Linked DNA regions of Homo sapiens: region 2 is linked to region 1. Evidence: fine-mapped expression QTL. Tissue or cell type: whole blood. Region 1 holds a variant in brackets; the other region holds the start of a gene. All regions are shown on one strand. Distances are between the middles of the regions.

Region 1 (4,240 bases):
GAACTTCAGAGCTTGAAGACAAGGCTCTTGAATTAACTGAATCAAGACAAAGAAAAAGAATTTTAAAATGAAATTTTAAAAGAAATTTGGGTTTATGTTAAATGGCCAAACCTAAGAATAATTGGTGTTCCTGCAGAAGAAGAGAAATCTGAAAGTTTGGAAAACTTATTTGAGGAAAACTTTGCTGGCCTTGCTACAGATCTAGACATCCAAATACAAGAAGCTCAAAGAACACCTGGGAAATTTATTGCAAAAAGATGATCAGCTAGGCACATATTTATCAGGCTATCTAAAGTCAAGATGAAAGAATCTTAAGAACTGTGAGACAAAAACATCAGATAACCTATAAAGGAAAACCTATCAGATTAATAGCAGACTTCTCAGCAGAAATCTTACAAGCCAGAAGCCAGAAGGGATTGGAGTCCCATTTTTAACCTCTTGAAACAAAATTATTCTCAGCCAAGAATTTTGTATCCAGTAAAACTAAGCTTCATAATTGAAGGAGAGATAGTCTTTTTCAGACAAACAAATGCTGAGAGAATTTGCCACTATTGAGCCAACACTACAAGAAATGCTTAAAGGAGTTCTAAATCTTGAAACAAAACCTCAAAATACACCAAAATAGAACCTCATTAAAGCGTAAATCTCACAAGACCTATAAAACAATAATACAATGGTGAAAGAACAACGTCTTTAGGCAAAAGCTAGCATGATGAATAGAACAGTACCTCACATCCCAATACTGATGTCGAATGTAAATGACCTAAATGCCCCACTTAAGAAAAGATACGCAATGGCAGAATGGATAAAAATCTACCAACTAAGTATCTGCAGTCTTCAGGAGAATCACCTAGCACACATGAACTCACAAAAACTTAAGGTAAAAGGGTGGAAAAAGATATTCCATGCAAATGGAAACCAAAAGCAATTAGGAGGAGCTAGTTTTATATCAGAAAAGAACAGACTTTAAAACAACAACAGTTAAAGCAAAGAGGGACATTATATAATGATAAAAGGAGTAGTCCAACAGGAAAGTATCACATTTCTAAATATATATGCACTTAACACTTGAGCTCCCAAATATATCAAACAATTACTAATAGGCCTAAGAAATGACATAGATGGTAACACAATAATAGTGGGGCACTTAAGTACTCCACTGACGGCACTAGACAGGTCCTCAAGACAGAAAGTCAACAAGGAAACAATGGACTTAAACTATAACCTAGAACAAATGGACTTAACAAATATATATACCCAACAACTGCAGAATATACATTCTTTTCATCAGCACATGGAACATTCTCCAAAATAGAACATATGCCACAAAACAAGTCTCAACAAATTTGAAAATCAAAATTATATCAAGTACTCTCTCAGATCAAAGTGGAATAAAATTGGAAATTAACTCCAAGAAGAATCCTCAAAACTATACAAATACTTGGAAATGAAATAATCTGCTCCTGAATGATCTTTAGGTCAACAGTAAAGTCAAGATGGAAATTAAAATATTCTTTGAGCTGAATGATTATAGTGACACAACTTATCAAAACCTCTGGGATACAGAAAAAGTGGTGCTAATGGGAAAGTTCATAGCATTAAATTCCTACATCAAAAAGTCTGAAGGAGGACAAATCAACAATCTAAGGTCA[C/A]ACTTCAAGGAACTAGAAAAACAAGAACAAAGCAAACCCAAACCTAGCAGAAGAAAAGAAACAGCAGAGATCAGAGCAGAACTAAATGAAATTGAAACAAAAAAATACAAAAGATAAATGAAACAAAAATATTTGAAAATTTAAAATTGATAGACCATTAGTGAAATTAACCAAGAAGAGAAAAGATCCAAATAAGCTCAATGAGAAATGAAACAGGAGATATTACAACCAATACCACAGAATACAAAAGACTATTCAAGGCTACTATGAACACCTTTATGCACACAAACTAGAAAATCTAGAGGAGATGAGTAAATTCTTGGAAATATACCACCCTCCCCAATTAAATCAGGAAGAAATGGAAACCCTAAACAGACCAATAACAAGTAGGAAGATTGAAACAGTAATTTTAAAAAATTGCCAACAAAGAAAACATCCAAGACCAGAGGGATTCACAGCTGAATTCTATCAGACATTCAAAGAACTGGTACCAATCTTACTGAAACTATTCCAAAAGACAGAGAAAGCAGGAATCCTTCCTAATTCATTCTGTGAAGCCAGTATCCCCCTAATTACAAAATCAGAAAAGAACATAATAAAAAAAGACAACTACAGACCAATATCCCTGATGTACGTAGATGCAAAAATCCTCAACAAATTACTAGCTAACCAAATCCAACAGCATATGAAAAAGATAATACACCATGGTCAAGTGGGTTTCATACCAGTGATGAAGGGATGGTTTAACATAGGCAAGTCAATAAATGTGATACATCACATAAACATAATTTAAAACAAAAATCACATGGTCATCTCAATAGATGCAGAAAAAGCATTTGACACAATCCTCCATCTAGTTATAATTAAAACCCTCAGCAAAATTGGCATAGAAGGGACGTACCTCAAGGTAATAAAAGCCATCTATGGGCTGGGCACGGTGGCTCACACCTGTAATCCCAGCACTTTGGGAGGCCAAGGCGGGCGGATCACAAGGTCAGATCGAGACCATCCTGGCTAACACGGTGAAACCCCATCTCTACTAAAAATACAAAAAAATTAGCCGGGCATGGTAGCGGGCGCCTGTAGTCCCAGCTACTCGGGAGGCCGAGGCAGTGAATGGCGTGAACCCGGGAGGTGGAGCTTGCAGTGAGCTGAGATCACGCCACTGCACTCCAGCCTGGGCAACAGAGCGAGACTCCGTCTCAAAAAAAAAAAAAAAGCCATCTATGACAAACCCACAGCCAGTGTTATATTGAACAGGGAAAAGTTGAAAGCATTCCCTCTGAGAACTGAAACAAGACAAGATTCCCACTTTCACCACTTCTGTTCAACATAATACAGGATGTCCTAGCCAGAGCAATCAGACAAGAGAAAGAAATAAAGGGTAAAAAATCAGTAAAGAGGAAGTCAAACTGTTGCTGTTCACCAATGATATGATCGTATACCTAGAAAACCCTAAAGACTCATCCAAAAAGCTCCTAGATAAATGAATTCAGCAAAGTTTCAAGATGCAAAATCAATATACTCAAATCAATAGCACTTTTATAGACCAACAGCAACCAAGCTGAGAATCAAATCAAGAACTCAACCTGCTTTACAACAGTTGCAGGAAAAAAAAAGTAAAATGCCTAACCAAGGACATGAAAGATCTCTACAAGGAGAACTACAGAACACTGCTGAAAGAAATTATAGATAATACAAAAAAATGGAAACATACCATGCTCAGGGATGGGCAGAATTAATATTGTTAAGAATTCTTACAAAAGCAATCTGCCAAAAAGCAATCCACAAATTCAATGCAGTTTCCTTCAGAGTACCACCATCATTCTTCACAGAAATATAAAAGTATCATATTTCTGCCAAAAGCAATCCACAAATTCAATGCAGTTTCCTTCAGAATACCACCATCATTGTTCACAGAAATATAAAAAAAAAAATCCTAAAATTTATGTGAGACCAAAAAAAGAGCCCATATAGCCAAAGCAAGACTAAGCAAAAAGAACAATCTGGAGGTATCACATTACCTGACATCAAACTATACTACAAGGCTATAGTTATCAAAACAGCATGGTACTGGTATAAAAGTAGGCATGCAGACCAGTGGAACAGAATAGAGTATCCAGAAATAAAGCCAAATATTTACAGCCAACTGATCTTTGAAAAAGCAAAACAAAAACATACACTGAGGAAAGGACACCCTATTTAACAAATGTTGCAGGATAATTGGCAAGCCAGATGTAGAAGAATGAAACTGGATCTTCATCTCTCATATAAAAATCAATGCAAGATGCATCAAAGACTTAAATCTAAGACCTGAAACCATAAAAATTCTAGAAAATAACATCGGAAAAACCTATCTAGGCCTTGGCTTAGGCAAAGAGTTCATGATCAACAACCCAAAAGCAAATGCAACAAAAACTAAGACAAATAGATGCAGCTTAATTCATCTAAAATGCTTCAGCACAACAACAAAAAATAATAATCAGTGGAATAAATGACCACCCGCAGAAAGGGAGAAAATATTCGCAAACTATGCATTCAATAGAGGACCAATATCCAGAATCTACAGGGAACTGAAACAAATCAGC
Region 2 (4,240 bases), 41 kb before region 1:
CGGAAAACAATGGCCCAAGACCTCGACCAAACCCAGCTCTCCACCTGTTTTTGTACAGCTTTGAACTGAGAATGCTTTTTTACAATCTTAAGTGGTTGAGAAAATATCAAAAGTAGAATAATATTTTGTCACATGTAAGTTTACATGAAATTCAAACTTTAGAAGAATTTCCTCTTCACAGACATCACATCTTCAAGAGCAAATGCTTGAGCCCTAACCTGCAAGTTATAGTAGAAAAGTCCAGAAGTCCAGCCTGGTCCTCGCCAAGTTTCCAACTCCTATGCCTAGGGGTATTTTATGCTTACAGGATCTAACTTGGTTACAACGTCTAACTTTTAGCAGAGAGGCAGTGCTGAGTAGAAACTGGACTTGTTAACCATATCAAGTCACTTAAGTTGGCTAGGATCCCCTACTTAGGTAGCGGCCATAAAGCCTAGGGCATCCCTGTGCCCTCAATGGTTCACTTCTGAGTGGTGGGCTTCCTGCTCCTCAATAGAGCAATCGGCAGAAAGGCCCCTAGAAAGCTACATTGTCTTCATCCGCGAAGGATTCCCTGTCTCCTATTCCTCAAAGGAGCACCCGGATTCTACTTTCATTCTTCTTTTGCCATTGCATTTTATAACTTAAAAGAAATAGATGATTGTAACAGAAGAAAGAAAACTTTACATTGTGAGAAAATTTAGACCTAAAGCTTATAGTAATGTGAGGACGAAAGTCTATACTGTTTAAGTAAATAGGTTCTATGAGCAGCATCCAGGCTAACATCACACAGTGGTATTTTGAATTAAATTGTACTTGTGTTTTGTTTCCGTGTTTTGCTGCTGTAAGGAAAGAGGAAAGCATCCCCTTTCTCGGCCCTCCTCCCACGTCCAGGCTAATTTGCAGCATTTCTACATCTCAGAGTCCACCCTTAAGATCCTTGCCACCCATTATTTTGTTTCAGAACGCTTAATCCATCAAGGAAGGTTAAATTGGATTACCCCAGTAGGGAAGGGACGGGGGCTGTAAGCATGAGGGATTATCCCTGTAAAGGGCTCGTGGTGTGTGTGTGTGTGCGTCCTGCTAGTGTTGAATGACGGAGACCTGAGTTTGGATTCTGAATCCAGGTGTATTCGATGCCGCTCCGGCGTAGAACGGGTTAAAGATGCCCCCAGCCAGGTAGAGCCAGACTGGGAGTTGTGCAAGGTCTCAACCCCCTAAAAGCGGCCCCTCAAATTGAAGATGAGTAAATCATAGTTCGTAAATCAGAAAGATTATCCAGTACTACGTTACTCTGTTTATTTCCCTTTCGTCATCCCTGAGTCTTGGGTCAAGTCCATCCCAGCTCTGTCCTCCAGGAATCAAGGGAAATACGCAAACCCGCGGTGGGTTCGCAGCCGCAGGAAGGACAAATCTTGCCCCCGCCGCGGCGGCCGCCCCGCGTTAGCTGCCTAAGAGAATCTCCGTGGCCGGCCAGTACCCGCCTTGGTGAGGATTCTCCCTCCCGCGAGAACTTCTGGAATGCCGCCGGGCCAGATTTTGCAGCTGAGGCCTCCGACGCCACTAATATTGGGCCAAGCAGGGAGTGCTGCTCTTCCTTATAAGGTTTTAGCGAAAGTTAAGTAAGCCAATTAAAGTGCAAAACACACAGTCTGGAACAATACAGCGCTCTATAAATGGTCTCCATTATTATCATTATCCGTTAGTTATAACTGGGGATAAAAAAAAAAAAAAAACGACAAAAACCTGGAGAACCGGAAAGGTCTGCAAAAGGGGCGGAACGCGGGAACTTCGATTTGGGGAAGGGGTGGCGGGGGAGATCCCACACAAGCAGCCAATCCAGCTGTCCCGGGGAGGAAGAGGAGGAGTCAAGGCCCGCCCCTGGTCTCCGCACTGCTCACTCCCGCGCAGTGAGGTTGGCACAGCCACCGCTCTGTGGCTCGCTTGGTTCCCTTAGTCCCGAGCGCTCGCCCACTGCAGATTCCTTTCCCGTGCAGACATGGCCTCTGGCACCACCACCACCGCCGTGAAGGTGAGATGAGCCCTCCCAGCCGCAGCGGTTCGCCCTGCCGGATGCCTTCTCGCCCCCGCGCCGGGGGACCGCGCCTCCGGGGGCCATGCGCCCGGCCCGTGCGTCCCTTGCCGCCGCGGGGAGGGACTGGGGCGCGGCACTCGGGACTCACTTGCCGCGCGAGGAGAGGGTACGCTTGCAAATGATCCCCCTGCCGCACCGCCAACACACACACACACACACACACACACACACACACACACACACACACACACACCACCTTTTGGCTTATCTGCACCCGCACCCTGTAGGGCGTAGGCACCCCTTTAGAGAGAGAGGTCGTGGATGGGAGAGGCTGCACCCATGCCACCACCATTCCTGAGAACCACTCTTCTTCCAAGAAAGACACCCGGCTGGAGTCAGGAGGTGTCCGGGCGCCTGCAGCTTCTGTGACCGTCTCCTGGTGCCTTGCGGGACTCCAGCTTCCGCTCTCTGACTCTGCTTGTTGCCTGCGGCCCACGTGGGAGAACTGCTTACTTGCTCTTTTGTATGCTTCCGGCTTCTTTTTCCTCCAAACGTAGGCCTTCTCCGCGCTGAAGTTTTCCCCAGCAGCGTAATACTGTAAGAATTCTGAGACTTTCTTCGAAAAGGAGTACAGGCGTCCGTTTTTAGGGCTGCACTGTTTGGAGGCCTCTGGCTTGAAACTGCTTTGTTTTGCAGCCTTGCAAGTTAGAGTTCAATTTCCTTGTGCCCTAGGCCCTGAGAGGCCTTGATACAAGGGGTCATTGTGCGGTGGGAAGCTTTGTGCTGAGGAGGGCACGAGTTCTGAGAGTAGCAGCTGGCTTCCCTGGGGTTTTAAACACTTCTCTCCTGGTTAGTATTCCGAGAGAGAATTACAGCACGTAAAGAAAAATTGATGATAAAACTTAAGACCTCTTCTAGGCAGTTTATTACTGGCTAAGAATGCGTTCTTGTTTGATTTTTAGAAATTTTTGGCCTATGGGATAGGAAGGTCTGCGATCTTCTCCAAAGCATCTCGATTCCCTACACTCGACTGCAGTTTTCCCGGGAGAAGGCGAATTTCTGCGGTCAGTGTGTAATCAGCCAGATTAGTTTATTACGCCCTTGCAGGTTTAAATGAGCCACTTAGAATGAGAGGAATGGTGAAGGGTGTTGCATCCAGACTTATATATGAAACTTATTTTGTCATTTTGAAAAGAATCTTGCATCCAGCAAATATTTATAGAAGGCCTCTCCCCTGCCTTCATTGTTTGGCGGAAACAAGGCAGAAATGGTTTTCATGAAACTCGTGTGAAGTATGTGACTTCTCTTAGGTGCTCATCTATAAACTGAGAATTTTACTGCAGAATTTGCTAGGAGGGCTAGAATTATATTGTCTATGTTGCACATGGTAGAAGCTTATTAAGTGGTAGTGCTTATAAGTGGGGGAACTGAGATTAATTTTGAATGATCTTTTCCCCAAAAATTATTAAGTTATTGTGTTAGGTATCATTAGGCCACAACTTTTCACCTTATCCTTGCAGGAATACACTTCAAGCGCCATTAAAAATGGAGAAATGGTGTTTAAAACAGTCTTACTTTAATCTGGTTAGCATTCTCCCTGCCACAGGGTTTCCCTTCAAATTAATGCAGTGCATTTAAGTGCAGAATGGGCAATGGGATTCTCAGAGACCTGATGTAAATATTGAATAGTGTGTATTTTTGGTCTTGGCAAGCTTCTGGATATAAAATTAAGAGGTACATATGGTGCTAGGACTGCCTGCTGATTTCTCTTTTAATTTAGAACAGATGACAGCTTTGCCGTAGAGATTCCATGATGCCAGCACCGTATTCCCCAGACTTCTAAGGCAACATTCTGTATAGAAGATGTGAGGTGCCAGTGTCCAGAGCAAAATAGGTTAATAAAAACCACATCCTATTCCCAAATTATAGAATGATGGGGCTGGAGTGTTCCTTCAAGACCATCCATATAGCCACACAAACCCGTTTTGCGGGTGTAAAGTTGAGGCCCAGAAAGGTCAGCTAAGTATCCAGAATTACACAGCTGGACCTAGATAATGACAGAATTGGGCCTAGAGCCTGGCATTCCACCAACTAGATGTGAGGCATTTCTGAAATCTGAAGTGTGGTCTCTGCCCTGTTTTCTTGTGACCTAATGCACAATTAAAATGAGCACTTGATAGAATGTCCATCTTGAAGAGGGAGGCAGAGGGTATGCAGAAAGCAGGC

Evidence for each region.
Region 2: it holds the start of MTAP, and the variant in region 1 is fine-mapped to the expression of MTAP in whole blood (TOPMed, PIP 0.98).

Annotation. Positions count from the first base shown.
Region 1 is chr9:21,842,175-21,846,414 of GRCh38, forward strand. The region is part of intron 5 of MTAP (methylthioadenosine phosphorylase); the gene reads left to right. Among named protein-coding and RNA genes, the nearest start is that of MTAP, 42 kb to the left of the region's middle. The variant C/A (reference allele first, on the strand shown) is at 1,653.
Region 2 is chr9:21,800,771-21,805,010 of GRCh38, forward strand. It overlaps MTAP (methylthioadenosine phosphorylase), which reads left to right and starts at 1,866. Exons shown (of 8, transcript NM_002451.4): 1 at 1,866-2,011. The coding sequence starts at 1,979. RefSeq lists enhancers at 745-1,375, 1,376-2,004, 2,499-2,708 and a silencer at 2,049-2,208.